Linked DNA regions of Homo sapiens. The protein of the gene in region 4 purifies or fractionates together with the protein of the main gene of each other region. This does not show direct contact. Each region holds a gene or a part of one and is shown on either strand. Other genes may lie near its edges. The genes, in order: DNAJC7, CCDC117, MYH9 and HSP90AB1.

Region 1 (8,516 bases), on a different chromosome or scaffold from region 4:
CCAGCCTGGGCAACAGAGCAAGACTCCGTCTCAAAAAAAAAAAAAAAAAAAAAAGTCCAGGCACGGTGGCTCACGCCTATAATCCCAGCACTTTGGGAGGCTGGGCAGGCAGATCACAAGGTCAGGAGATCAAGACCATCCTGGCTAACACGGTGAAACCCCATCTCTACTAAAAGTACAAAAAAGGATTAGCCAGGCAAGGTGGCAGGCGCCTGTAGTCCCAGCTACTCAGTAGGCTGAGGCAGGAGAATGGTGTGAACCCGGGAGATGGAGCTTGCGGTGAGCTGACATCGCGCCACTGCACTCCAGCCTGGGCAACAGAGCAAGATCCTGTCTCAAAAAAAAAAAAGAAAAAGAAAAAGATACTTTTCTTTTCCTTTAGGCTATTAATAATAATACTTTATACTGCCAATGAGTCAATATCCCTTATGCATTCCTCTTATATTTACTACTCCCCAAATGTCGCCTTACTCTATGATTGTTGTGCTCCATTTATTTTATTCAGTCAAACTTACTAGTTGCCTGTTGATCTAGAAATGCCCTCCACCCTTCAGAATTCACGGGATCTTGGCCAGTCAGAGTAGAAATTCTTTCCTCCTTCCCACAGTCCGAGACCTCTTGTCCCCAATGGCATGTCACAGGGCCTGTTTCATGTTGCACTCTCCCTGACCTTCATGACAAAATAAAGTAAAAGGAGCCCAGGAGCCTAACTTCTATTCCATCTTACCAAAAGCATATCATTTAGATTCTTCTTTAAGAAAAAAATTTCTTTTTTTTTGGAGACAGTCTCATTCTATTGCCCAGGCCAGAGTGCAGTGGTGAGATCTCGGCTCACTGCAATCTTCACCTCCCAGGTTCAAGCGATTCTTGTGCCTCAGCCTCCCTGGTAGCTGGGACTACAGGCACGCACCACCATGCCCAGCTAAATTTTTGTATTTTAGTAGAGATGGGGTTTCACTATGTTGCCCAGGCTGGTCTCAAACTCTTGAGCTCAGGCAATCCACCTCCTCAGCCTCCCAAAGTGCTAAGATTACACACATGATGAGCCACCACAATTGGCCAGAAAAAACTGCCTTTTTTTTTTTTTTTTTTTTTTTTGAGACAGAATTTCGCTCTTGTTGCCCAGGCTGGAGTGCAATGGCGTGATCTCAGCTCACCGCAACCTCCGCCTCCCAGGTTCAACTGATTCTCCTGTCTCAGCCTCCCAAGTAGCTGGGATTACAGGCATGTGCCCGGTAAGAAGTTTCTTTTTTAAAAAAAAATCTAGGCTGGGCAAGGTGGCTCATGTCTATAATCCCAGCACTTTGGGAGGCCAAGGAGGGTGGATCACCTGAGGTCAGAAGTTCAAGACCAGCCTAGGCAACATGGTGAAACCCCATCTCTACAAAAATACAAAAATTAGCCGGGCATGATGGAGGGTGCCTGTAATCCCACCTATTCGGGAGGCTGAGGCGGGAGAATTATTTGAACCCAGGAGGCGGAGGTTGCAGTGAGCCGAGACTGTGCCATTGCACTCCAGCCTGGGCAAGAGTGAGACTCCGTCTCAAAAAAGAAAAAAAAAAAAATCTACTATTCTACAAGTGAAATGTCAATATAAGTTTCACATAGATAAGTGGAAGTCACAGGTATAGATATATATATATAGATATAGATTTTTTTTTTTGAGACGGAGTCTCGCTCTGTCACCCAGGTTGGAGTGCAGTGGCGCCATCTCGGCTCATTGCAAGCTCCGCCTCCTAGGTTCACGCCATTCTCCTGCCTCAGCCTCCCAAGTAGCTGTGACTACAGGCGCCTGCCACCACGCCCAGCTAATTTTTTTGTATTTTTAGTAGAGACGGGGTTTCACCGTGTTAGCCAGGATGGTCTCAATCTCCTGACCTCATGATCCGCCCGCCTCGGCCTCCCAAAGTGCTGGGATTACAGGCGTGAGCCACCGCGCCGGGTCAGACATATATTTTTTGAGACAGACTCTCACTCTTGTTGCCCAGGCTGGAGTGCAGTGGTGTGATCTCAGTTCACAGCAACCTCTGCCTCCCAGGTTCAAGTGATTCTCCTGCCTCAGCCTCCTGAGTAGCTGAGATTACAGGGCCCCACTACCATGCCTGGCTAATCTTTGTTTATTTTAGTAGAGATGAGGTCTTGCCATGTTGGCCAGGCTGGTCTTCAAACTTCTGACCTCAAGTGATCCGCCAATCTCTGCCTTCCAAAGTGTTGGGATTAAAGGCGTGAGCCATCACGCCGGGCCATAGATATATGACTTGGAATAATTCTATAAATATGGCAAGGTATTTATGCTCGGTGCTTCATCCAGAAAAAAATAGAAGGTGAGCGCTATCCAACTGCTACCTTTTAGCAAAGCTATCTGCTACTCAGCTTTCTTTACCCAATTTCCTACAGAATAGATAGTTTTCACTTTAAAGCACAAATGGAACAACCCTCCACACATCTCCGCTAATAAAGAGAAGGCAGAAGATGAAGAAAATTCCTTAACATACCAGTTCAAATTGTCCTCTGGGTGGACATTCAAGGAGAAGCCTCAACACGGGCAGAGTCAGAAGGGACCCAAAATGCACCAGAGGAGTCACAGACTGTCTACACAAAGCAGCAGCACTCCCTACTGTTCAGGCAGGGACGGACACCAGCCAGCAAGCTGTGCCTGGCTATGCAGCTGGCTATGCCTTATTCAGTAAGGAAGAAAAAGCAAGCAACCAATTCAATCCCTACAGAAATCCCATCACTGCAGGCAGAAACATATTCACTTGGAAATACTTGTCTCAACGGTGAGTTGGAAATTTATTTTAGGTCCTTAAATGAGAGGTGTCACAATCTATTACATCTACCTAACCTTCACTTATCCCTGGGGAGAGGAGACCCAACAATGAAGCTACTTCTGGGAAACATGCTTCTCTGAAACCATTCTGAGGATACAAGTCACTGGCTTTTCAGCATTAGCCAGAGGCTTGTTTTCATAACATATCCCCAAACCCACCATTTTCCATCCCTCGGTTCCCTATTCTGTGACATCTCCCACTATAGGGACACCAGCACCCATCAAAAATTTAAAACTGAGGAACTACAATTAAGGAAAAGGCTGCTTTGCCCTGGCGCAGTGGCTCACGCCTGTAATCCCAGCACTTGGGAGGCCGAGGCGGGCAGATCCTGAGGTGATGAGATCAAGACCATCCTGGCCAACATGGTGAAACCCGTCTCTACTAAAAATATAAAAAATTAGCTGGGCATGGTGGCATGCAACTGTAGTCCCAGCTACTCAGGAGGCTGAGGCAGGAGGATAGCTTGAACCCAGGAAGCGGAGATTGCAGTGAGCCGAGATCGTGCCATTGCACACTCCAGCCTGGAGACACAGCAAGACTCCATCACAAAGAAAGAAAGAAAGAAAGAGACAGACAGAAAGAGAGAAAGAAAGAGGCTACTTCCTAGGCCGGGTGCAGTGGCTCACGCCTATAATCCCAGCACTTTGGGAGGCCAAGGCGGGTGGATCACCTGAGGTCGGGAGTTCGAGACCAGACTGACCAACATGGAGAAACCCTGTCTCTACAAAAAAAAAAAAAAATACAAAATTAGCCGGGCGTGGTGGCGCATGCCTGTAATTCCAGCTACTCAGGAAGCTGACTCAGGAGAATTGCTTGAACCCGGGAGGCGGAGGCTGCAGTGAGCCAAGATTGCGCCATTGCACTCCAGCCTGGGCAACAAGAATGAAACTCTGTCTCAAAAATATATATATATAAAGGCTGCTTCCTGAGTTTTTTTGGGTGGAGTGGGGTGGGGTGGAGATGGGAACTAGAGTGGGGAGGAGCCTGGATTGTCAACGGTATTTCACTTCTCAAAGTTGTCTTGGTTCCTTAGTTCAACAGGTGGTTAACTGTCTCAGGGCAAACTGTCCAAGGAAGAACTCTCAGGACAGAAACTCCAAAAACAAGAGAGGGTCCTGCTTGCCCCTCACACTCTCTCCAAAAGTAATATTAGAATCAAGAGAGATGGTTAACACTGCTTATCTGACAATCTGGCCTCCCCACACAAATTGTAAGTCACATGCCAATAGAATTTCACGTCTCAGAATAAGACCTGAGAGTCATATATTCCTCCTATTACCATTCTCAAAAGCCTCAACCACTCATATTCTTACCCATGGTGAGGGTAAAACATAGGAATTGCCATTTTGATCCGAATGGGAGAAGGAAAAACAGTGTCACTCCAATAAAATGAATAGCCTGTTAGGATAACTGCACTTTGAATTTTGTTCTTACTTCAAAAGTTTAAAAGAATACCTGGAAAGACCTCTGAGTAACTTCCACATCACTCAGTGCTGGAGAAAGGGGACCAAAGACTAGTGCAGTAAGGGAGAAATGGGCTCTCAGAGGGACTCTGCATCAGGCCACAAAGCAACTAGGCAACTGCTGACTATTGTTCTCCAAACTTCTAAAGTCCCGAAGAACAAAAAAGCAAGTGCCCAGTACTCAGCTTTTCAAAACCATTAAAATACAAACTTCAATGACTAAACTAATCCCTGATTGGCTGGAATGTACAATAAGGCTGGGCTTTCGGCCAATCAGAGTTCTGTTTGTTGGGAGTGGACTGGACTCTAAGCAACTGCCACTCACTTGGCCCTATATTTTCTCAAAATTCTTGTTTCTCTGGCACTAGTTAACATGTGGATCTGAACTAAAGCACTAAGAGAGAACCTTTCTCTGTACTCTACCTTTGCTCCAGTTATGATTATCTACTTTGCCATCTGTTAGTATCAGGGTTCAATTAATTTGCCGGTATTGAGAATTCTGTATTCCTAGGTTTATCCCTTCCTTAACTTATTTCTCCTCCCATCTCCCATTTCTTCACATCTGACTACACTTAGTGCACAGCAAAAGGAAAATAGTGTTTCTCACTGATTTGGGTTCCAGGTCAAAGATAAATTCCCACTCAGTTTGGAGGCTTACTGAAATGTCTAGGTGCTTGCTCTGAAACTTCAAGAGGAAGATTAGAAGGACACATTCCTAAGAATTTAAAACCAGGTAAGGAAGAAAGCTGGGGAGGCATGCCCACAAGCTCTTCAGTTAAGTGAGGCCACAAACTCAAAAACACCATGCAAAGCTGCAGCAAACGAACAGCAACTACAGGAAACCCGGGACATGAATTGAGAGTTCAGTTGTTCCCATTAACAATCTGAATAGAGAAATAAAAGGCAAAATCCTAATCGCAAAGAGTGTACAATACCTAGGTAGTAAGGGCCTAATAAGAATTGCTCTTATTTGTGCCCATCAGGAAAACATACAGAGAAGTTAAGTTTATCAGCTCAAGGAATCAGGTAAGGATGTCCTGACTCTTAAGTCTATGGATCCCTTGATTCTTTTAGATCTTGTTGTCCAGTCACACTAGGTATATGCTGAGACACGTAAGTGTTTTCTCTTTGAAAAACAATTTGAGGTTGGGTGTAGTGGCCCACGCCTGTAATCCCAGCACTTTGGGAGGACAAGGCGGGCGGATCATGAGGTTAAGAGATCGAGACCATCCTGGCCAACATGGTAAAACTCCGTCTCTATTAAAAATACAAAAATTAGCTGGGTGTGGTGGCACACGCCTATAGTCCCAGCTACTCGGGAGGCTGAGGCAGGAGAATCATTTGAACCCAGGAGGCGGAGTTTGCAGTGAGCTGAGATCACACCACTGCACTCCAGCCTGGTGACAGAGCGAGACTCCGTCAAAAAGAAAAGAAAACAATTTGAAATCCCTCAAGTTTACCATAAGAAAGACTCCCTATAGAGATCAAGCTGTTTCCCAGCCCAGGAGATATAACAAGAGATCCTTAATTCAAGACAGGTATTCCCATATTAGGTAAAGCAGTCAGCAACTTCCCAGGAAAATATAAAGCCTTAAGTTAGTTGAAATGTGAAACATCTGAAGTTTAACCCTCTGGCTCATAAATAGCTTTGCCTGTTTTGGTGAGCAAAGAGAAATAATCTTCATGCATAGAATCCTGATCTGTTTTGGAGTGCCAACTAATATATCTTTTATTTTAGCCCCAACCCTTTTTTTTGAGACAGGGTTTCACTCTGTCACCCAGGATGCAGTGCAGTGGTGTGATCGCAGCTCACTGCAGCCTCGACCTCCCCCAGCTCAGGTGATACTTACACCTCAGCGTCCCAAGTAGCAGGGCCTACAGGTATGCACCATCACACCCTGCTAATTTTTGTATTTTTTTTTTACAGAGATGGGGGGCGGGTTTCACCACGTTGCCCAGGTTGGTCTCGAACTCCTGGCCTCAAGCAATCCACTGGCCTCAGCCTCCCAAGGTGCTGGAATTACAGGCGTGAGCCACCGCACCCAGCCTTAAATGTTTTTATAGAGACTAAGTCTCACTATGTTGCCCAGGCTGGTCTCAAACTACTGGGCTTAAGCGATCCTCTCATTTTGGCCTCACAAAGTGCTAAGATTACAGGCATGAGCCACTAAGCCTAGCCTTATTTTAGTTTCTTGGCTGCTGTAAGGGAAACAGAACTTTGTCAGAGTGACATGCAAAAAAATTGAAATCCATCTCTTTTCTCTACAGAAACACTAAAGCTAAGGAAATAAAACATGTAGCCATTTAAAATGCTGCAATCGTGAAGTCCGTCTTAAAAGCTCCTCTCATTTTGCCCCCCTATGGGACTGTGACAACTTAGCAGCAGCAGGACATGTCTTAAGCCAAGACGTAAGGAAGGAAGGACTCCTTACAAAGCTGGACCTCACAAAAACGACCCGAGAGACTCATTAACTCTTGATCCCTAAATGAACTGGTAGGAGGACCATAACAACAGAGGCAGGAACTTGGCCAAAGAACTCTAACCAAGCCAGACAGTAAAAGGGCATTTGTAAGGGATGCCCCTATCACTGCCCTCTGCTATGGCCACACAAGAGGAATCCAGGACACATGAAAAACATAAAACCACCTCCCTCCAAAGCTTCTAAATCTCCATCCCATTTTCAGCACTGGAAAAATCATACATAAACAAGGCTTTTTCATACTAACAGAGCCTAATGTTTATTCTTTTTTTTGAGACAGAGTTTCACTCTTGTCGCCCAGGTTGGAGTGCAATGGCACGATCTCGGCTCACCGCAACCTCCGCCTACCGGATTCAAGTGATTCTCCTGCCTCAGCCTCCAAGTCGGTGGGGCTACAGGCATGCACCGCCATGCCTGGCTAATTTTTTTTTTCTATTTTTAGTAGAGATGGGGTTTCTCCATGTTGGTCAGGCTGGTCTCAAACTCCCGACCTCAGGTGATCAGCCTGCTTTAGCCTCCCAAAGTGCTGGGATTATAGGCATAAGCCACCGCGCCCGGCCAATGTTTATTCTTCTAAGGATGTCTGATATGGCAAAAAGTTAAACTGATTTTTTTGTTTATTTCACTTATTTTCCTTTTTTTTTTTTGAAATGGAGTCTCACCATGTCGCCCAGGCTGGAGTGCAATGGTGTGACCTTGGCTCACTGCAACCTCCGCCTCCCGGGTTCAAGCGACTCTCCTGCCTCAGACTCCCGAGTAGCTGGGATTACAGGTGCCCACCACTACGCCCAGCTATTTTTTCTATTTTTAGTAGAGATGGGGTTTCACCATGTTGGCCAGGCTGGTCTCAAACTCCTGACCTCGTGATCCGCCCACCTCAGCCTCCCAAAATGATGGGATTACAAGTGTGAGCCACTGCACCCAGCCAATTTTCCTTTTGATTTGTGCAAAAAAGTGGTATATAATAAATAACTATGTTTAAGTCTGTCGAAAACAGTGCTATATATGAGAAACATAAAAGTCTGATAAGAATGCATTTTTTTCTTTTTTTAATTGATTTTTTTTTTTTTGAGACGGAGTTTTGCTCTTGTTGCCCAGGCTGGAGTGCAATGGCATGATCTCCCCTCACCACAACCTCTGCCTCAGCCTCCTGACTAGCTGGGATTACAGCATCACCCCACCTGGCTAATTTTTGTATTTTTAGTAGATGGGGTTTCACCGTATTAGTCAGGCTGGTTTCGAACTCCTGACCTCAGGTAATCCACCCGCCTTGGCCTCCCAAAGTGCTGGGATTACAGGTGTGAGCCACCACGCCCAGTCTTTTTTCTTTTTTTAATTAATTTTTTTCTGTCACTATTTGAACTACAGGAATAATGCATGTTGTCATGTTTAATTTACAGTTACATTTTCTTAGTGACAGATAAAATAATTTGCATTCTGCAATCAATGACTTTTTTTTGAGATGGAATCTCACTTTGTCACCCAGGCTGGAGTGCAATGGCCCGATCTCAGCTCACTGCAACCTCCACCTCCTGAGTTCAAGCGATTCTCCTGCCTCAGCCTCCCGTGTAACTGGGATTACATGTGTGTGCCACCACGCCCCGCTAATTTTTGTATTTTTAGTAGAGACAGGGTTCTGCCATGTTGGCCATGCTGGTTTCAAACTCCCGACCTCAGCTGACCCACCTGCCTCGGCCTCCCAAAGTGCTGGGATTACAGGTGTGAGCTACTGCACCCAGCCT
Region 2 (7,248 bases), on a different chromosome or scaffold from region 4:
CAGTAGTAGCTAGGACAACAGGCATGCACCATCATGCCTGGCTAATTTTTTAGGTTTTATTTTTTTTGGAGACTGGGTCTTGCTATATTGCCCAGACTTGTCTTGAACTTCTGGCTTCAAGCCACATCAGCCTCCCAAAGTGCTGGGATTTCAGATGTGAGCCACCACACCCAGCCTGGAAAAATATTTTTTTTTTTTTTTTTCCCCTAAACCCCAGAGTCAACAAGACTATTTGGTAGCCAAGGCTGGAAAAAAGGATATTTTTTAAGGTAAGGAATGAGGTGGCCATTTGTAGAAATTGCCCAGGAGAGTATCTTTTATATCCAGTTAAGCAGGATTTTACTTTAAGAATGCAAAATTGAATTGTAAATGGCATTAAGAAAACTGAAACCCAATCCATTATCTTGGCAAAGGGGGTTCGTTAGTTTTCTCTTGCATCATCACAATGGCAATAGAGTTAGAGAGGAATGGGGAGAATCTGGAAGCATTTTGCAAGTAAAGTCCATAGAACTTGCTAACTGACTAGATATGGGTGTGAACAAAAGAGAGGCATTCATGGTGATGCCTTGGTTTTTGGTCAGAAAGAGAAAAGTATCTTCTGACAGAGGAAACTTCCTTGATACTGGGAGGTGAAGCCAGCTGAGCTTCTGAGTCCAGTGAGGACTTGGAGAACTTTTGTGTCTAGTCAAAGGATTGTAAATGCACCAATCGGTGCTCTGTGTCTAGCTAAAGGATTGTAAATGCACCAATCAGCACTCTGTAAAAACGCACCAATTAGCACTCTGTAAAATGGACCAATCAGCGCTCAGTAAAATGGACCAATCAGCACTCTGTAAAATGGACCAATCAGCAGGATGTGGGCAAGACCAAATAAGGGAATAAAAGCTGGCCACTTGAGACAGCAGCGCCAACCTGTTCGTGTTCCTTTTCACACTGTAGGTTTGTTCTTTCACTGTTCACAGTAAATCTTGCTGCTGCCCACTCTGGGTTTGCACTGCCTTTATGAGCCATAACACCCACCGCGAGGATCTGCTGCTTCATTCCTGAAGTCAGCAAGATCACAAACGCACCTGGCAGAACAAACAACTCCTGACAGGCCACCTTTAAGAGCTGTAACACTCACTGTGAAGGTCTGCAGGTTCTCTCCTGAAGTCAGCAAGACCACGCACCCACCGGAAGGAAGAAACTCCGGACACATTTGAACATCTGAAGTAACAAACTGCAGACGCACCATCTTTAAGAGCTGTAACACTCACCGCGAAGGTCCATGGCTTCGTTCTTGAAGTTGGGAAGACCAAGAACCAACCGGAAAGAATAAATTCCAGACACAATACTGTTAGACTTCATTGTCCTCCTGTTAAACATAAAAATTTCACAGAGCGTTATCAAACAAGGCTATTCTGACCTCATGGATCACGACAAAAACAAGTTCACTTAATCCTGTCCAAATACAGGCAAAAGCATAAACATTGTCCAAACCACAAAAATTGCTAAATACCACCCTACCCTAACTGATATGAAGGACTGTTGCTACTTTACCAGTTAGAGGTTGAGCTTTCCTTCATTCCTCACACCTTATAGAAAAGATTGGTTAAGATACCCAATCACAGCGGGCAGATCACTTGAAGTCAGGAGTTTGAGGCCAGCCTGGCCAACATGGTGAAACCCCATCTCTACTAAAAATACAAAAATTAGCCAGGCAAGGTGGCACACACCTGTAATCCCAGCTACTCAGGAGGCTGAGGCACGAGAATTGCTTGAACCTGGGAGGGAGAGGCTGCAGTGAGCCAAGATAGCACCACTGCACTCCAGTCTGGGCAACAGAGTGACACACTGTCTCAAAACAAAAAGGACACCCAATCACAAATTTATCCCCACTTCCAGACAGAATTAATTCCAGAGCAAAGCTGTTTTCTTTCTTTTCTTTTTCCTTTCCTTTTCTTTCTCTTGCCCTTTCGCCCAGGCTGGAGTGCAATGGCACGATCTCGAATCTCAGCTCACTACAACCTCTGCCTCCTGGGCTCCCCGACTCAAGCTATTCTCCTGCCTCAGCCTTCTGAGTAGCCGGGACTACAGGCGCCCACCACCATGCCTGGCTAATTTTTGTATTTTTAGTAGAGACAGGGTTTCACCATATTGACAAGGCTGGTCTTGAACTCCTGACCTTGTGATCCCACTGCCTCGGCCTCCCAAAGTGCTGGGATTACAGGTGTGAGCCACTGCACCTGGCCGAAAAGTTCTTTTTTTTTTTTTTTGGAGAGGGAGTCTCGCTGTGTCTCCCTTGCTGGAGTGCGGTGGCGTGATCTCCGCTCACTGCAAGCTCCGCCTGCCGGGTTCACGCCATTCTCCTGCCTCAGCCTCCCAAGTAGCTGGGACTACAGGCACCCGCCACCACCCCCGGCTAATTTTTTGTATTTATTTATTTATTTGTTTATTTATTTATTTATTTTGTGAGACAGAGTCTCACTCTGTTGCCCAGGCTGGAGTGCAGTGATATGATCTCGGCTCACTGCAAGCTCCGCCTCCCGGGTTCACGCCATTCTCCTGCCTCAGCATCCCGAGTAGCTGGGACTACAGGCGCCCACCACCACGCCCGGCTAATTTTTTGTATTTTTAGTAGAGACGGGGTTTCACCGTGTTAGCCAGGATGATCTCGCTCTCCTGACCTCGTGATCCACCTGCCTCGGCCTCCCAAAGTGCTGGGATTACAGGCGTGAGCCACGGAGCCCAGCCAAAAGCTGTTTTTTAAAACCTTCCCTCAAAACGTCTAACACAACCCCAAATCCTATAAAAAGCCTTTGTAACACCTCCTAAGGGAGAAATTTCCTCACTGGAATGAGTAGATAAACCTTTCTTTGTTCAATTATGTACATGTGTGTGCTTTGGCTGAAGGGCATTGACATTGGCATAAGCAGTTTCGATTGGATGGTGGTGCTGTTGTGAGATGGAAAAAACAGGGCATAGTCAGTGATTGGGGGTTGACCATCTGCCAAGCCCAGGCAGGAGATACTGCCTCTGAATGCCCCAAAGAGGCTGGAAGGCTTGCCAGTACCTGTCACAAGTGCTCTGAGGCTTTTGTTTTTGTTTAAGTCCTGAGTTTACTTTTTTTTTTTTTTTTTTTTGAGACACGGTCTTGCTCTGTCACTCAGACTGGAGTGCAGTGGTGTAATTATAGCCCACTGTAACCTCAAACTCATGGGCTCAAGCAATCCTCTCACCTCAGCCTCCCCAGTAGCTAGGACTACAGACATGCACTACCACGGTGGGCTAATTGTTATTTTTTTGTTGTTGAGATAGGGTCAAGCTAGACCTAGGATGGACTCCTGGCCTCAAGCGATTCTCCCACCTCCCACCTCCGACCTCCCAAAGTGATGGGATCACAGGCGTGAGCCACCTTGCCGCGCAACTGAGGTGTTTTTTTGTTTTGTTTTGTTTCTTGAGACGTAGTCTCGCTCTGCCACCCAGGCTGGAGTGCAGTGGCACGATCGCGGCTCACTGCAACCTCCGCCTCCCGGGTTCAAGCGATTCTCCTGCCTCAGCCTCCCGAGTACATGGGATTACAGGCGCGCACCACCACACCTGGCTAATTTTTTATATTTTTGGTAGAGACGGGATTTCACCACGTAGGCCAGGCTGGTCTTGAACTCCTGACCTCAAGTGATTCGCCCACCTCGGCCTCCCAAAGTGGTAAGATTACAGGCGTGAGCCACCGCCCCCAGCCAGCAGCTGAGGTTTTTACTTAATTTTCTATGCTGTTCTAAGGCACCACCAACTTCATTTGTATTAAAATTGTTACATTTTTATTAATAGAGTCACATATGAATAACTGATAATGAGCGTGTATTGTATGTCAGGCACTGCTTTAAGGGCTCTAGATTGTTTTTGTTTTGAGACAGGGTCTCCCGGGCTCAAGAGATCCTCCCGCCTCCACCTTCCAAATTGCTGGGATTACACGAGTGAGCCACCGCCCTGCCCTGGCTCTAGATGTTTAAATTCATGTACTCCGCACATCAACTCTATGATTATATGTACTATTATTATCTCATTTTACTACTGTGGAAACTGAGATACGAAACTTGCGGAGTGAGGATTTGAACCTAGGTCATACTCTTGGCCAGCCAGAGACACCCTAAGCCCCAGCTAAGAGGTCGAGAAGCAGCCATTTTGCTTGTAGTCCGGAAGGACTGCAAATCCCGGCATCCCTCGCGGCAGCGGCCCTCTACACACAACAAATCCCGGCATGCCCCCGAGCGGCCTGAGGTGGAGGGTTCTAGAAGGCGTGACGTGGGGTCGAGAGCGGGATCCGAGGCTGGCGGGTTTTGGCAGTAGCTGTGGCTGCGGCTGCCGGGCCTGGGGACGCGGGCGGCCGAGGCCGCCGTCGCAGCCTCCTCGTCTCGCCGGCTATGGCTGCGCTCGGCCGGCCCTTCAGCGGCCTCCCTCTGAGCGGCGGCTCGGACTTCCTGCAGCCGCCGCAGCCGGCCTTCCCCGGCCGGGCCTTCCCGCCGGGGGCTGACGGCGCCGAGTTGGCCCCGCGGCCGGGACCTCGCGCAGTCCCTAGCAGTCCCGCTGGGAGTGCGGCGCGCGGACGGTGAGGAGCCCGTCGGGCGCAGGGCGCAGGGCGGGCGGGCGGGCGGGCAGGCTGGGCGCCCCTCGCGGCGGGCGCGGGCAGGGGCGCGGGCTCCGCGCCGGGGCTTTTTGACTCCCTCCCCACGGCCCTCCGCGGGAGCTTCGCAGCCCAGTTTACAGATGAAGAAACTGATCCCCGGAGACGTTAACTGTAAGTCGCCGGGGGTCACATAGCCCAGGAGTCCGGTCCGAACCTCAGCTCGACTGCGGCCCGGAGAAGTGAGACTTTCCCAGTTGGAACCTGGGCGACTCGGTCTGGGTGCCCCCTCGGCGCGGCCGCTGTTAGTGACAACTTTCAGTGTCTCATCTGCAAAGTATGCCAAGCATGGGACAGAAATGGGTCCTCTTAGTGAGATTATTTAAATAAAGTGCTTAACACAGCGCCTGCCCCGAGGACGTTTCCCTGGTTTGGTCCTCCCTAATCTGTCTTCCATTACGTTGATAAAAGGACAAGTTGAGATTTCACTGTCCAGTTCTGTCGGGGCAATCCACCGTTACCCGACTGACCTGTGATTTGTACCCATCCCACTAGGCTCAGAAAGGGACGTTTGGTATGTGGGGATGAGCAAGATTATTGGAGCAAGAAAGAGGATACTGAAACCACAAGCTCGAGTACATTTCTTAATTGACTGATTTTTGTTTGTTTCAACAGTGTTTCTGTTCACTGTAAAAAGAAACACAAGCGAGAGGAGGAGGAGGATGATGAGTAAGTTTCAGTGGTTGTTTATTCACTCTGTGGTCACCGTTAGTTGAACCCCTGTTATAGTCTAAATTACTTAAGTGAAAAGGTGAAACATTAGATGAGTGTCTCTGGAAAGAGACACAGAAATTAGTGACATTGGTTGTCTTTTAGAGAAAGTAACAGTGGCAGGCAGACAGGTCAGAGGGAAACTTTTCGCTCTATAACAAGTTGTAATATTTGGATTTTGAGCCATGTTAATATTACATGCACAAAGTAAAATAATTTAAAGGATACATATTGAAAAGTTTTGTTTTTGTTTTTTTTTTTTTTTGGGACGGAGTCTGCCTCTGTCGCCCAGGCTGGAGTGCAGTGGCGCTATGTGGGCTCACTGCAATCTCCGCCTCCCGGCTTCATGCCATTCTCCTGCCTCAGCCTCCCGAGTAGCTGGGACTACAGGCGCCCGCCACCACGCCTGGCAATTTTTTTTTTTTTTTAGTAGAGACGGGGTTTCACTGTGTTAGCCAGGGTGGTCTTGATCTTCTGACTTCATGATCCTCCCGCCTCAGCCTCCCAAAGTGCTGAGATTACAGGCCTGAGCCGCCCCGGCCTGAAAAGTCTTTTTTTTTTTTTTTTTTTTAAAGTCAGGGGCTCTGTCACCCAAGCTGGAGTGCAGTTGTGTGATCACAGCTCACTGCAGCCTCAAACTCCTTGGGCTCAAATGATCCCTCAGCTTCAGCCTCCTGAACAGCTGAGACTACAGACTTGTGCCACCAGGCTCAGCTAATTTTTTAAAAAATTTTTTGTAGAGATGGTGTCTCACTATGTTGCCCAGTCTGGTCATGAACTTCTGGCCTCAAGCAGTCCTCCCAACTCTGGGATTACAGGTGTGAACCGTCCCCCAGGCTGTATTACAAAATCTTTTACTCCACACCCCTAGTTTTCCCCACCAGAGACAACCCCCTTACCTGTTTTCATTGTCTCCTTTAGAAGATAATCTAAAAATTTACCAAGTTCACAAGTGTTTTTCTTTTTCTTTCTTTTTTTCTTTTTTGAGACAAGGCCTCATTCTGTCAGGCTGGAGTGCAGTGGCTGTGTTTTTACATTTGTAGGAAGATATGGTTCACACTGTGCAACACATTGATCTTTTCATTTTACTCTTCTGTAGCTTGTTGCATATCAGCACATAGAGAGAGGTTTACGTAATTTCTCTTTCAATAGTTGAGTGGAGGCCAGGCGTGGTGGCTCACACCTGTAATCCCAGCACTTTGGGAGGCTGAGAAGGGCAGATCAGGAGGTCAGGAGTTTGAGACCAGCTTGGCCAGCATGGTGAAACCCCATCTCTATTAAAATACAAAAATTAGCCATGGGTAGTGGTGCGTAACTGTAATGCCAGCTACTCAGGAGGCTGAGGCAGGAGAATCACTTGAACCCGGGAGGTGGAGGTTGCAGTGAGCCAAGATTGCGCCATTGCACTCCAGCCTGGGCAGTAGAGTGAGACTCCGTCTCAAAAAAACAAAAGAAAGTAGTTGTGTGGAATTCTATCGTAGGACTTGGTGTAGATAATTAACCAATTTCCTATTGATGCATTTCTAAATTATTTCTAATCTTTTGCTATTACAATCTACCCTGACCATTCTTTTGAAGTTCTTTGTATATGTTTGGAAGTATATGAATGATTTCCTTGACGTGGAATTGCTGGGTCTTAAAGTGTGTGCATTTTAAATTTTGAACGTGAGTTTTTGCCAATTTATATGCCCATTAACATCCTCTGAACACAAGTGTGTTTTTAAACTTCGGGATTGCTGCCCAACTAATAGATGAAAAATTATATCTCATAAACAGTCTAATAGAAAAAGAAGTAAGGCCAGGCGCGGTGGCTCACACCTGTAATCCCGGCACTTTGGGAAGCCGAGGCAGGTGGATCACGAGGTCAGGAGTTC
Region 3 (8,516 bases), on a different chromosome or scaffold from region 4:
ACTAACCGTGGTGACAGGGCAAAAAGGCAACTAAAGACAATCATCTGTGTATCCCACCCCGTAATGCACACTTTGACAGTGTTCGTCACCGTGGACGTGAGCCCAAGCTGAGCTTCATTTTCTACTTTCTGTCCCCTCCTGTGGGCCGGAAGCCAGTGCCCATGGTGCCACCCCTAATGCGCACCTGCCACTCAAAACCAGTGCCCAGCCTGCCGGTCCATCCCCACCACAGGCAGGAAACACCTTTCCTTTTGTTATTCTCCTGTTACTTCTTTTAACACTAAAGACCTTTGTCAAATAGCCTTTTTTTCCTTTTGCAGATAAATCCGAAATTGAGATTCCCCAAATCAAAGAGAGTGACTGGCTGTGTGCAGCCCGACCACACCAGTAAAAAAATGCCACCAGCAATCAGAGCATCTATGCCCACAACCTTGACCACAATGAAGTTTTAAAGTTTTTGTGGGTTTTTTTTTTACACTTAACATTTTTTTTTTGGCCGGGCGCAGTGGCTCATGCTTGTAATCCCAGCACTTTGGGAGGCCGAGGCGGGTGGATCACAAGGTCAGGAGATTGAGACCATCCTGGCTAACATGGTGAAACCCCGTCTCTACTAAAAATACAAAAATTAGCCGGGCGTGGCGGCGTGCGCCTGTAGTCCCAGCTGCTGGGGAGGCTGAGGCAGGAGAATGGCGTGAACCCGGGAGGCGGAGCTTGCAGCAAGCCGAGATCATGCCACTGCACTCCAGCCTGAGCGACAGAGCGAGACTCCGTCTCAAACAAACAAACAAAAAAAAATTTGTTAAACTAAGGTTATTCTTGTTACATGATATGGCGTATCAGAGCTGTTTTTACGTGTTAATTATTCTTTAATTATTAGTGAGGTGAAGATTTCCAAGTATGTGTCCCACACTCCGGGCTGCTTCTTGGAACCATCGCCCCAGAGCCCAGAAGGCTGAAGGGTGTCAGGACCCGGGTGATTCTGGAAGTCTGCATTAAGTGAGACCTTCTTGAACTCCACCCATGTCTAGGCTTGTACTTGTTTGCTTCTGTGTTTTATGTACCCAGTCATACACCGTTTTGCAAGTTTGCTGTTGGACTATCATGTTTCCACTCACCTCTGAGCCTCTGAGTCTCTGTCAGTGAGATGGGGCTGGAAGCACCCAGGACCTTCCCAGGAGGTGCCACCCTGCCAGGTTCCCGCCCTGGGCCGAGCCCTGGCACCTTCATATGTAGTTGGCTCAGTCGGGTGCCGCCCACCCTCACCTGGGCCCCGCCCACCCTTACCTGCAGCTTCCGCAGCTGTTTGATGGCTTCGTCCCGGTTCTTGTTGGCCGAGTCGATGTGCGCCTCCAGGTCCTTCAGGTCCATCTCCAGCTTCTTCCGGGCGGCCACTGCCATCGAGCGCTGCTTCCTCTCGTCCTCCAGCTCTGCCTCCATCTCCCGCACCTGGGGGAAGGAACATCAACAACTTGGGAAGCTGGACCCACTGGGAGACCCTGCCCTAGCTCTGAACTCAGGAGCCTCAGGCCAGTTCTGCAGGATCCATGGGGCCTCGGGAAACCAGTGGGGATTACTGACCATAAGAACTCTAAGAAAGTGAGTCACTGAACCCCGAGACAGGAGGCTAGAAAGAAGGAATATGGGAGGGGAGGCGTGGTCAAGGGGCCCTAACACAATCCAGGTGGAAGGAGAGAACAGAAGCCTGCGTGAAGCCAAGGCAGCCTTGGGCACCCATGGGGTAGCAGGAGGCCATGCACACCTGTCTGACCAGCTGCTTCTTCTTCTCCTCGCTCTGCTCGTCCCGGCCCTGCAGGTCCCGCTCGAACTGGGCCTTCATGGCCTGCAGGTTGACCTCCAACCGCAGCTTGGCATCTTCGGTGGCCTGCAGCTCGTCCTCCAGCTCTTCCAGCTGCGTCTTCATCTCCTCCACCTGCTGCTCTAGGGCCCGCTTGGACTTCTCCAGCTCGTGGACCTGAGCCCCAGAGAGCCCAAGTCAGGAGCAAAGGGACTGGCAGGTACCTGGGTCTGCGCGACCCGGAGTCTGTGCACACACCGACCCTCTGTGATGACCCCACTCGGGCCCTTCCCAAGACCTGGCTGCCAGGCCCAGGACTCACACTCTTGCCCACATCATCCTTGGAGCTCATAAGGTCCTCCATCTCCGTGCGGAACTGCTTGTTGAGCCGCTCCAGCTCCGCCTTCTGCTCCATGGCTTCCTCCAGGGCCCGGGCCAGCGACAGAGCCTTGGTCTCCTTCTCTCGGGCCTCCGCCTCAGCCCGGTCGCGCTCCTCTGCATACTTGGCAGAGATGGTCTTCTCCTCCGCCAGGAGCTGGGAAAGAGGTGGGCACCATGAGGCTCAGAGCTACGGCCCCCAGCAGGGCAGGGCAGCTGGGCCTAAGCTCCCTGGGGAAGGAGGAGCCCAGAGGCCACGGTGGAGAGGAGCAGGCCTAGGAAGCACAGGCCCAGGGCTGTGCCCAGGACAATACACACAGTCCCGTGCATCCTCATGATGGGATGACTGCCGACTGGAGCAGGCACTACTGCGAACACCATGTTGTAACGTCTGTTTAATTTTCATCACTTACTAATCGCAACCCTTTATGGCACGCTGCCCCTTCCATGAGAGCCCTCCAAACCTGTAAGAGCTTTGGTTCTCCTGAACCACAGCTGGCATTTGGTTGGCACTTTTCACGAAGTGAATGCCAAGCTGGCTGCCAAGAAGCCTGAACCCCATTTGTGGTCTTCTCTAATGACAGCTGCTGTCCCCTGGCATCTGTTCTCTGTGTGCACCCACCTGGCTCTATCCTATTTCCCCACCTTCCCTTCCTTTTGGCCCAAACCTTAATTATCCCATGGGTTGCTGACCATTTCCTAAAGGGCCAGATAGTGCATTCTTTAGAGTATGCAGGCCCTACAGTCTCTGCAGCAATGGCTCAACCCCACTACCACAGCACAAAGCAACCAGAGACAACATGAGAACCATGGAGCGTGGCTGTGTTCAGTCTATCGTTCCCTACAAAATGCAGGGGCCGGATCCGGCTACCACAGTTGGCTGCCCGATGTCTTCTACTGTTCTATCCTGCCCCCGAGTCCACATCCCCCTCAGCTGCTCTCAGATCTTTTGGAATAAGGAAGTGATATGAATGCATAAATAAATCGTTTAAAAGACAGTCAAACCGCAGGAGTTTGAGACCAGCCTGGGCGATATGGTGAGATCCCTGTCACTATGAAAAACATCTAAAAATTAGCTGGGTGTGGTGGTGGTGCACGCCTGTGGTCCCAGCCACTCAGGAAGCTGATGTGGGAGGATCACTTGAGCTGTGGTTGCACCACGGCACCCCAGCCTGGGCAACAGACAGAGACAGTCTCCAAAAAAAAAAAAAAAAAAAACCCAAACTATTTTAAAAAAACCCAAACTATAATTAAATAATTATAATAATGTAATGATATAATGATAATTAAAGTGATTTTAACTCAGTGCTCAATGGAGCCCAGGCTGGAGTGCAGTGGCGTGATCTCGGCTTGCTACAGCCTCCACCTCCCAGCCGCCTGCCTTGGCCTCCCAAAATGCCAAGATTGCAGCCTCTTCCCGGCCGCCACCCCATCTGGGAAGTGAGGAGCGTCTCTGCCTGGCCGCCCATCGTCTGGGATGTGAGGAGCCCCTCTGCCTGGCTGCCCAGTCTGGAAGGTGAGGGGTGTCTCTGCCCGGCCGCCATCCCATCTAGGAGGTGAGGAGCGCCTCTTCCCGGCCGCCATCACATCTAGGAAGTGAGGAGCGTCTCTGCCCGGCCGCCCATCGTCTGAGATGTGGGGAGCGCCTCTGCCCCGCCGCCCCGTCTGGGATGTGAGGAGTGCCTCTGCCCAGTGGCGACCCCGTCTGGGAGGTGAGGAGCATCTCTGCCCGGCCGCCCCGTCTGAGAAGTGAGGAGACCCTCTGCCTGGCAACCGCCCCGTCTGAGAGGTGAGGAGCCCCTCCGCCCTGCAGCCGCCCCGTCTGAGAGGTGAGGAGCCCCTCCGCCCGGCGGCCACCCCGTCTGGGAAGTGAGGAGCGTCTCCGCCCGGCAGCCACCCCATCCGGGAGGGAGGTGGGGGGGTCAGCCCCCCGCCAGGCCAGCCGCCCCGTCCGGGAGGTGAGGGGCGCCTCTGCCCGGCCGCCCCTACTGGTTAGTGAGGAGCCCCTCTGCCAGGCCACCACCCCGTCTGGGAGGTGTACCCAACAGCTCATTGATAGCGGGCCATGATGACAATGGCGGTTTTGTGGAATAGAAAGGGGGGAAAGGTGGGGAAAAGATTGAGAAATCGGATGGTTGCCGTGTCTGTGTAGAAAGAAGTATACATGGGAGACTTTTCATTTTGTTGTGTACAAGAAAAATTCTTCTGCCTTGGGATCTTGTTGATCTGTGACCTTACCCCCAACCCTGTGCTCTCTGAAACATGTGCTGTGTCCACTCAGGGTTAAATGGATTAAGGGCGGTGCAAGATGTGCTTTGTTAAACAGATGCTTGAAGGCAGCATGCTCTTAAGAGTCATCACCACTCCCTAATCTCAAGTACCCAGGGACACAAACACTGCGGAAGGCCAAAGGGTCCTCTGCCTAGGAAAACCGGAGACCTTTGTTCACTTGTTTATCTGCTGACCTTCCCTCCACTATTGTCCTATGACCCTGCCAAATCCCCCTCTGCGAGAAACACCCAAGAATGATCAATAAAAAAATTAAAAAAAAAAAAAAAAAAAAAAAGACAGTCAAACCAGTTCATTAGAGAAAATCTGAAAAATGTAAAAAATCAGAAAGGAAAAGTCACTCCTCAACCCATCGCATGAAGACGCCCTCTTCCGCTGGCCTTCTCCCTGGGACCCTCAACAAGCCAGAGCCTGAGGGTCCTCTAAGCACTGGCCCCGCACGGCCCCTCCCCGGCGAGACCCTGAGGGAGCCCAGGCTTTCTCTGATGGGCCCTTTGCTTTGGACTCAGTGCTTGAAGGAGAGGAAATGCAAAGGATGGGGCCAACGGCCACACACCTGGTCAAACTTCTTCTGCTTCTTCTCCAGGTTGCACGCGCTCTGGCGCTGGTGGTCCAGGTCCACCAGCAGGTCGTCCAGCTCCTGCTGCAGCCGCGTCTTGGTCTTCTCCAGCTTGTCGTAGGCGGCCACCTTCTCCTCGTGCCGCTGGCTCAGGCCCTCCAGGTCCTTCTGGAGCTTCCTCTTCACCTCCTCAGCAGTTTCCAGGCACCCCACACTGTCCTCCATCTTCTTTTTCATGTCGGCCACCTGGGCAGGAGCAAGGAGTAAGCAGATGCCCGAGATGGCACCTGCTCAGGTGGCACACCCGTCCCTGGGGCAGCTGGGAGCCTGCCTGCCACACCGTGGAAGGGGCACCAGGGATCTGCCCAGTTATGAAACCGCCTCCCCCAGTCACTTCCCTCTCCACAGGGGCGAGACAAATGGAGCTTCTGCAAAGGGGCATCTGTCTACTGTGTGAAGCCCGGGGGAGGCTGACCCCCAGGCCCGCTGTGGGGGCTCCCAGCCCACATCCACACCAAGCCTCTTGCTCTACGGAGACTGCTCCCAGAGAGCAGGGCCAGTGCCCTGTAGGGTGTCCACGGGGTCCCCATCACCCAGCCCCATCCTTGCACTTGGAGATAAACCCACAATCAGGCACGCTCGCGGGCTACTCCTACCCTGACTGTGGAATGGACTCCCAGCCCATCCCGAGGTGGTTCAGGCCTTCTGGCCTGGCACATGGAGGCCCAAGATAGGATCTAGAGCAGGGGCTCTGAAACCATATTAGGCTACGGACCCCTTCGCAGTCTAGAGAGGCCAAGGGACTCCTTCTCATGACAATGTTGTAACAGGCATGAAATAAACATGGGATCAGCAGGGCAACCAGTACAGAAAAATGCAGTTGTCACACATTCTAAAAAACCATGGCTCAGGAAGCCACGTGCTGCTAGATAGCACATCAGATAACAAACAGCGCAGGCCTGGGACCCATGAGGCCAAGGAGCTCGGCCACAACCCTGACAGGGTAACTGGCCATTTCTACAGATGATGACGGCACAGGGACTGCCACCACCATGGCTTGCTGCCTACATCCATAATGGAAGCAATGCTGAATTTCAGCTAAAGACTGGTGAAAATAAAGGTGTAAAATAGTGAAAATAGTGGTGTCCCCCATCTAAGTCCACAGATCCCTGGATTCCTTTCCTTGAGAGCACTGATGTGGGAGAGCACGGTTGGCTTCCCAGGGGGAGAGCAGCAATGGGCCGGCCCAGCGGGCAGGGCTGTCCTGCAGTGCCCAGGCCAGTGCCCGGCCAGCAGCTCCCCAGCCTGCAGAGTCCGGCCGGTCCCCCAGGCCTCCAAACCTGGGCATGGAGGGTGGCGATCTGCTTCTCCAGGTTGTGCTTGGCCTCCTCCTCCTCCTCCAGCTGCTCCCGGAAGGAATTCTTCTCGTCCTCCACCTGCTTGAGCTTGGTGCTCAGGCTCAGCTTCTGCCGGTTCTCCTCCTGCAGCAGCTCCTACTCGCGGGTTGAGAGGGGTGCGGGTGCTTAGGAGGGTGGTGTCCAAAACCCAGGAACCCCACACCCTTGAGGAGAGGGAGGAGCTGGTCCTGCTGATTTAGGGGATGGCCACGTAAAGACCTGGAGGGAGCTGGGAGGACGCAGAGACCCACCCACAGGATGAAGCAGATGAAGGAGAGGATGGGCAATCCGATGGGCTCTGAAGCTAATGTTGCGTGGACACAGAGGCCTTTCTGGAGGGGTCCACCTTCTGGGAACCTGGCGCCACCCCTACCTGAGTGTCCTGCAGCTGGGACTCCAGCGCGGAGAAGTCCTTGGTGAGCTTGCTGGACTTGCTGTCGGACTGGCTGAGAAGCCCGGTCACGTTGTCCAGCTCCACCTGCACCGGGCGGGGAGACACAAAGGACCATGGACCCACCCCCACTGCTCCTGCCCCACCTCATCTCCTTTAGGTAAAGCTGGACCTGAGTCACAAGCTGAACCATGAGGGTCTGAGGAGCCAGTTTGAGAAGAGAGAGAGACAGAGAGCACACATGCACCTGGGGACCTGGGCCACAACTGCTGCTAGGGCCCACTGCCCGCGCCAGGGTCCTGGCGGAGGCCTCACCTGCAGCTTGGTGACCTTGTCGGCCAGCTCTGTGCGCACGCGCTCTCCCTCGTTGAACTTGACCTGCAGCTCCTGCAGCTGCGCCTCCACTTTCTTGCGCTTGTGCTCCGAGTCCCCTTTGCCCTGCAGCAGCACCTTCACCTCGTTGGCCAGCTCCCCCCGCTCGTTCTCCAGAGTCTGCTTTGCCTTCTCGAGGTTTGCTTTCACCTAGCAGGGAAGAAAGCAAAGACGTGAGTGGGGGCCTCCTGACACAAGGCTGGCTGGTCTATCATCACTGGACCCTAGATCCAGACATCGCTGCTTCTGCAGCCCTGACGACGGTGTGCCTGCGTCCTGGACTCAGACGGCTCGGGCCTCATCTGTCCTGTCCTCTTCTCTCTTAGCTGGTGGGTGACACTTGGTTCCTGTCTTCACTGCTTAGGACATCTCACAGCTTCCCCATCTCTAAAATAATACCTGCCCAGCCTTCTGCCCTGGGTAGAGGCCAGGTTCTAGGGCATGGCATTGGTGTTGCAGATGTTAGCAATATTTGTAACGCAATAAGGGGAACTATAATTGTTTGCAGTTAGACTTCCAATAAAGCCTGTCTGAAGTCTGATGTTCAAAGTAACGATGTAATGTTTTCACCCTCAAATAATCACGAGACAGACATACCATAATCCTCCCTTATGAACAGGGAAACTGAGGCACGAGTCACAAAGCCCCTTAGAAGGGGAGCCTGGCCTCAGAACCAGGCAGTTGGGTAGAACCCTGCAACTGCTCTGCAGGACTGGTTTGGATTCTGTGGGCCCAGCACGGGGAACCCTGCCCTCCCCCTGCGGTCTCAGGGAGGCTCCGCACCCGCTTCGTCTGCTCCAGCTGCTCCGCCAGCTCCTCCACGGCCTGTGAGTGCTTCTGCCTCATCTCCTGGATCTGGGCCTCGTGGGTCTTGGCCTCCTCCTCCAGGGTCTTCTTCAGGATGTTCACCTCCTGCTCACGTTTTGACCTGGACAGAGAAATCCCCTCAGAGTGGAGGCCGGGGATGCTGGAGCGAGGCTGTCCCTGGGGCTCTTCCCTGACCAAAGAGAGGCCTGGCCAGGGCACAGGCACTCCAGGCAGCTTTTCTACCCACCGGCCCCTCCTAGCCATCTATCCCATAGCCCAGGCTCAAATACGCCCTGTGAGAGCTTCTGTAGCCTTTCAGCTTTAAAGCCCAGCCTTGCCTCACCCCCAACTTTGAGCCAGGTCCTTCAACAGACTTTCTACTCTGTAGAGAGAAACCGCTGAGGAACCAGCAGCTTCCATGCCTGCTGGTGCCTAAGAGGGCCACGGTGTGTGTGTGTGTGTGTGTGCAGAGGCCCGGGGTCCATGTCTCCAAGCCAAGGCCCCCCTGGCTGCCCTCCCCATCCCGAG
Region 4 (5,799 bases):
CCATCTGCTCCGCATGTGGCCAGCTCTTCATCTTTTACACCATTGGGCAGTTTGGGGCTGCCGTCTTCACCATCATCATGACCCTCCGCCAGGCCTTTGCCATCCTTCTTTCCTGCCTTCTCTATGGCCACACTGTCACTGTGGTGGGAGGGCTGGGGGTGGCTGTGGTCTTTGCTGCCCTCCTGCTCAGAGTCTACGCGCGGGGCCGTCTAAAGCAACGGGGAAAGAAGGCTGTGCCTGTTGAGTCTCCTGTGCAGAAGGTTTGAGGGTGGAAAGGGCCTGAGGGGTGAAGTGAAATAGGACCCTCCCACCATCCCCTTCTGCTGTAACCTCTGAGGGAGCTGGCTGAAAGGGCAAAATGCAGGTGTTTTCTCAGTATCACAGACCAGCTCTGCAGCAGGGGATTGGGGAGCCCAGGAGGCAGCCTTCCCTTTTGCCTTAAGTCACCCATCTTCCAGTAAGCAGTTTATTCTGAGCCCCGGGGGTAGACAGTCCTCAGTGAGGGGTTTTGGGGAGTTTGGGGTCAAGAGAGCATAGGTAGGTTCCAGTTACTCTTCCCACAAGTTCCCTTAAGTCTTGCCCTAGCTGTGCTCTGCCACCTTCCAGACTCACTCCCCTCTGCAAATACCTGCATTTCTTACCCTGGTGAGAAAAGCACAAGCGGTGTAGGCTCCAATGCTGCTTTCCCAGGAGGGTGAAGATGGTGCTGTGCTGAGGAAAGGGGATGCAGAGCCCTGCCCAGCACCACCACCTCCTATGCTCCTGGATCCCTAGGCTCTGTTCCATGAGCCTGTTGCAGGTTTTGGTACTTTAGAAATGTAACTTTTTGCTCTTATAATTTTATTTTATTAAATTAAATTACTGCAGTGGACTTGGTCCTGTGTTTTGGTTGACTGAAAGGGCATTATTATATGGTAGTTTTTCCAAACTGCCTTTAGCTTCAGTGTGTGAACTCTTAAGACTCACTGGTATTCTGTTATTTTCACTACAAAACCAGCTCAACTTGCTGTGCTCATGAAAACAGCAAGAGCTGGAGGGATGAAGAAGCTAGGGAAGGATAACATCCACTTCACAAGGGAAAGCAGAACTGTATAAAAACGGCATATTCTTTATTTTGCATACTTTAATTTCAGAACAAAATGAAGAAAATAAAATAAACCACAATACACAACATCCAATCCTGCTGTCAAGAGTAGAGAGGGAATGGGGCTTGACACCCTTAGTTTACTGCCTTCAACACAAGGACAGGAGAGGGAAAAAAACACTAGACACCAGCAGGGGGAGCCAGGTGGGACAGGGGCACTCGAGGCTGCAGTGGGAGCCCATGGGGACACTATACAAGGGCACAAGTTTTCCAACTATGAACTCCTAACCTAATCGACTTCTTCCATGCGAGACGCATCCTCATCGCCCTCGAGAGGGGGGATCTCATCAGGAACTGCAGCATTGGGTTCCTCTGCTGCCACTTCATCTTCATCAATACCTGAAGTAAAATTAAGCCATGTGAGACTTGACCAAATAGCATTAAGTCAAATCCATAGAGGAGACGAGTTGCACAAACTCCTTGCCACACCAAGTACCAAAGCTACTTACCTAGACCTAGCTTGATCATGCGATAGATGCGGTTGGAGTGGGTCTGGGGATCCTCAAGGGAAAAGCCAGAAGATAGCAGGGCGGTTTCAAACAGCAGCACCACCAGGTCCTTAACTGCCTTATCATTCTTGTCGGCCTCAGCCTTCTGCCGCAGCGTCTCCACAATGGGGTGGTCAGGGTTGATCTCCAGGTGCTTTTTGGCCATCATATAGCCCATGGTGGAGTTGTCCCGAAGTGCCTGGGCTTTCATGATCCGCTCCATATTGGCTGTCCAGCCGTAGGTGCTGGTCACAATGCAGCAAGGTGAAGACACAAGTCTATTGGAGATTGTCACCTGTGGACGATCACAAAAGCCTTAGATTGACATTACCACTTTGAAAGAGAAAACAGGCATTGTCAAGCCTAATTCCAGCAGGGGGAGGAGGTGGACAGACCACTTGAGTTTGAGACCATGCTGGCCAACATGGCAAAACCCTGTCTACAAAAAATTAACCGGGTGTGGTAGCACACATCTGTAATCCCAGCCACTCAGGAGACTTGAGTTTGCAGTGAGCGAGATCCAGTCCAAAAAAAAAAAAAATCGGCCAGGCATGGTGGCTTGCGCCTGTTAATCCCAGCACTTTGGGAGGCCGAGGTGGGCGAATCACAAGGTCAGGAGATGGAGACCATCCTGGCTAACGCGATGAAACCCCATCTCTACTAAAAATACAAAAAATTAGCCGGGGTGTGGTGGCGGGCGCCTGTAGTGGCAGCTACTCAGGAGGCTAAGGCAGGAGAATGGCGTGAACCCAGGAGGCGGAGCTTGCAATGAGCAGAGATCGTGCCACTGCACTCCAGCCTGGGTGACAGAGCGAGACCCCATCTCAAAAAAAGAAAAAAAAAAGAAAATGATGGTATTTTATCTACTCTCAGAAGTTAACTGAAGCAATGCCTAATCTGTGCCAAATTTTATTAAAATAGCCTTAAACCTGACTAGAGAAGAGAACAAGAGGCAAGAAGGCATGAAACAGTAAATAGGCTGCCTCAAACCACTAATTGTATAGAAACATGCTTGTGAGGGAGCCCACCTCGAAGATGTTACAAAATATATCCTAGCCCCAGAATGGCTTACCTTCTCAACCTTCTTATCTAAGATTTCTTTCATGAGCTTGCAGAGGTTCTCAAACTTTGCCTTGCTCTCTTCCATCTTCTTCTTCTCCTCCTCATCCTCAGGCAGCTCCAGACCCTCCTTGGTAACTGAGACCAGGCTCTTCCCATCAAATTCCTTGAGCTGCTGCACACAGTACTCGTCAATGGGCTCGGTCATATATACCACCTCGAAGCCCCGTTTCCGCACTCGCTCCACAAAAGCTGAGTTGGCCACCTGCTCTTTGCTCTCACCTGTAGGGTAATTAAATGAACTCAGTGACTAAAATGCCTCATACTGCCAGTTCCCAGGAAGCCCTAATTGTGCTCCCCACTCCTCCAAAAAGGCTTCAATCAGAGTCAACGCACCAGTGATGTAATAGATGGACTTCTGTGTCTCCTTCATGCGAGAAACATACTCTGACAGAGATGTCATCTCATCTCCAGACTGGGAGGTATGATAGCGCAGCAGCTCAGACAGGCGGCGGCGGTTAGTGGAGTCTTCGTGGATTCCAAGCTTGAAGGGTGGGAAGAGGAAAAACAATCCAGCTTAACTACAATAACTTCACTTTCAATGTGAATGGAATAATTTATTGTTATTACTAAGAAAGTGGTAAAGGGAATAAGCATTATTTGCCTTTTTACCTTGAGATTTTTAGAGAATGCCTCATAGAATTTCTTGTAATTCTCCTTGTCTTCTGCCAGCTCAGAGAAGAGCTCAAGGCACTTCTTAACAATGTTTTTGCGAATGACTTTCAAGATTTTGCTCTGCTGGAGCATTTCTCGGGAGATGTTCAGGGGCAGATCCTCAGAGTCAACCACACCACGGATAAAATCTGCCATCAACCAGGGTGAGAAAGCTCAGTAAAAAACAGCTAGACCAGACCTGGTCCCCAGATTCAAACAGAAGGCTCTAATAGCCTCCTGAACCCTTACACCTACTATGTATTGCAGAAAACTGTTACCTTAGAATATCCTAGCAGAATGCCTAAAACCTCCCAAGACTTCACCCAACTAAATTAGGCCAAGGAGATACTCACTGAGATACTCTGGTATCAACTCATCACAGCTGTCCATGATGAACACACGGCGGACATAGAGTTTGATGTTGTTCTTTTTCTTCTTGTTCTCAAAAAGGTCAAAGGGAGCCCGACGAGGAATAAATAGCAATGCCCTGAATTCCAACTGACCTTCTACAGAAAAGTGCTGAAAGAAACCAAAAATAAGTGGTACATTTCAAAAGAGGACCTTTTAGCCCCAACACCAAATTATCTAAAAGTGGAACAATGATCCTCCCTAAGCCTAAGGGATAGAGCACACACAACAAGCAGCTCCTGAGAAAACTGAGCCTTAATGCCCTCCACGATCTAGATGGGTACTAGCTGTATGTAGAAAACAGTCCCCTCTGATCAGAACCCTGGATGTGTAAGGCTGCCAATAGACATTACCCAGATTTCCATAAGAAGAGAAAGTGAGGTCATTAGAAATGATGGCACTTCACTATGACAGGGTAATCAGTAAGTGAAATCACATGGCTATCACATTTCTGTTATCAGTTGGACAAGTTCCGTGTGTCTATTACCCAACACTCTTCCACCTAACTCATTCCTCTCCATATGTGCATGTTGAGCCAACATGCAAAGGCTTCTCACACCTTGACTGCCAAGTGGTCTTCCCAGTCATTAGTGAGGCTCTTGTAGAATTCTCCATACTCCTCTTGGGTGATGTCATCAGGGTTTCTGGTCCAAATAGGCTTGGTCTTGTTTAGTTCTTCCTGATCAATGTATTTCTCTTTGATCTTCTTAGTTTTCTTCTTCTTATCCTTACCGCTGTCATCCTCCTCATCTGAACCCACATCTTCGATCTTGGGTTTTTCTTCATCATCTTTATCTTCCTCTTCTTTCTCACCTTTCTCTTCCTCTGCCTCATCATCACTAATTTCCTTCTCTCGTTCCTTCTCCAACTAAGTAACAAAAACAGAAGTTAGCCTTGGAGTACAAAACACTACCAGGGAAAGCAAAAGCCAGGGACAATGAGATTCTCCAGAACAGGAAACATCCTGCACGTTAAGTGTAAAAGATTTAAAAGTCCATACTCACATAAAGGGTGATGGGATAGCCTATGAACTGAGAATGCTTCTTCACTACTTCTTTGACCCGCCTCTCTTCTAGGTACTCTGTCTGATCTTCTTTAAGATGGAGGATCACTTTGGTACCCCTGCCAATGGGCTCACCTAGAAGAGTCAATTACAAGCGTGTAACAGGGTAAAAAGTATATGCAGTTGAGACCAGCAATTAGTAAGTATCAGCAGAACTGCTGTGAAGAACTGCTTTACAGACAGGATGCCCAAAATTTCTGCTACTGGTGTGAGCCCAGAAAATCCTAACCCAACTACCTTGTAACAGAAAAGCTAACTTACCATGGTCAGCACGCACAGTGAAGGAACCTCCAGCAGAAGACTCCCAAGCATACTGTTCATCATCGTTGTGCTTTGTGATCACAACCACTTTCTCTGCCACCAAGTAGGCAGAATAAAAGCCAACACCAAACTGCCCAATCATGGAGATGTCTGCACCAGCCTGCCAACAAGTTTAAAGTCAATCACAAGTTTTAAAGAAGCAAAAAACCAAAGAACACAGATAAGTATGAATGCCTACAGAACTGCAATACCTGAAGAGCCTCCATGAATGCTTTAGTACCAGACTTGGCAATGGTTCCCAAATTATTTATGAGATCAGCTTTGGTCATGCCAATGCCTGTGTCTACCAAAGTCAGGGTACGTTCCTGAGGGTTGGGGATGATGTCAATTTTCAGCTCTTTACCACTGTCCAACTTCGAAGGGTCTGTCAGGCTCTCATAGCGAATCTTGTCCAAGGCCTGGAAATACAAACAGCAACTTACTTTTGCTCTTTCCAAGACAGACTCTTGCTCTGTTGCCCAAGCTACAGTGCAGTGGCAAGGATGACAGCTCACTGCAGCCTTGACCTCCCAGGTTCGAGCCATCCTCCCAACCCCAGCTTCCCAAGTAGCTGGGACTACAGGCACATGCCACCGTGCCCAACTAATATTTAATTTTTTGCA

The links.
Region 1: the proteins of HSP90AB1 (region 4) and DNAJC7 purify together in Homo sapiens (affinity purification with western blotting; 3 studies listed by BioGRID and IntAct, with this or other methods). This does not show direct contact.
Region 2: the proteins of HSP90AB1 (region 4) and CCDC117 purify together in Homo sapiens (affinity purification with mass spectrometry; 4 studies listed by BioGRID and IntAct, with this or other methods). This does not show direct contact.
Region 3: the proteins of HSP90AB1 (region 4) and MYH9 purify together in Homo sapiens (affinity purification with mass spectrometry; 4 studies listed by BioGRID and IntAct, with this or other methods). This does not show direct contact.

Annotation. Positions count from the first base shown.
Region 1 is NC_000017.11:42,006,765-42,015,280, forward strand, and holds part of DNAJC7 (dnaJ homolog subfamily C member 7), read right to left. Parts: intron 1-8,516. UniProt on the Homo sapiens protein: Acts as a co-chaperone regulating the molecular chaperones HSP70 and HSP90 in folding of steroid receptors, such as the glucocorticoid receptor and the progesterone receptor.
Region 2 is NC_000022.11:28,768,447-28,775,694, forward strand, and holds the start of CCDC117 (coiled-coil domain-containing protein 117), read left to right. Parts: upstream 1-4,248; 5' UTR 4,249-4,403; coding exon 4,404-4,588; intron 4,589-4,690; exon of another isoform or gene 4,691-4,777; intron 4,778-5,278; coding exon 5,279-5,332; intron 5,333-7,248. UniProt on the Homo sapiens protein: Facilitates DNA repair, cell cycle progression, and cell proliferation through its interaction with CIAO2B.
Region 3 is NC_000022.11:36,286,968-36,295,483, forward strand, and holds part of MYH9 (myosin-9), read right to left. Parts: intron 8,110-8,516; coding exon 7,965-8,109; intron 7,332-7,964; coding exon 7,125-7,331; intron 6,897-7,124; coding exon 6,792-6,896; intron 6,515-6,791; coding exon 6,362-6,514; intron 5,268-6,361; coding exon 5,019-5,267; intron 2,331-5,018; coding exon 2,118-2,330; intron 1,973-2,117; coding exon 1,760-1,972; intron 1,447-1,759; coding exon 1,285-1,446; intron 1-1,284. UniProt on the Homo sapiens protein: Cellular myosin that appears to play a role in cytokinesis, cell shape, and specialized functions such as secretion and capping. Required for cortical actin clearance prior to oocyte exocytosis. Promotes cell motility in conjunction with S100A4.
Region 4 is NC_000006.12:44,249,173-44,254,971, reverse strand, and holds the end of HSP90AB1 (heat shock protein HSP 90-beta), read right to left. Parts: intron 5,596-5,799; coding exon 5,389-5,595; intron 5,298-5,388; coding exon 5,138-5,297; intron 4,952-5,137; coding exon 4,818-4,951; intron 4,682-4,817; coding exon 4,373-4,681; intron 3,925-4,372; coding exon 3,759-3,924; intron 3,555-3,758; coding exon 3,364-3,554; intron 3,236-3,363; coding exon 3,088-3,235; intron 2,974-3,087; coding exon 2,705-2,973; intron 1,928-2,704; coding exon 1,594-1,927; intron 1,484-1,593; coding exon 1,374-1,483; 3' UTR 1,089-1,373; downstream 1-1,088. Other genes in the region: SLC35B2 (adenosine 3'-phospho 5'-phosphosulfate transporter 1), read left to right, coding at 1-266. UniProt on the Homo sapiens protein: Molecular chaperone that promotes the maturation, structural maintenance and proper regulation of specific target proteins involved for instance in cell cycle control and signal transduction. Undergoes a functional cycle linked to its ATPase activity.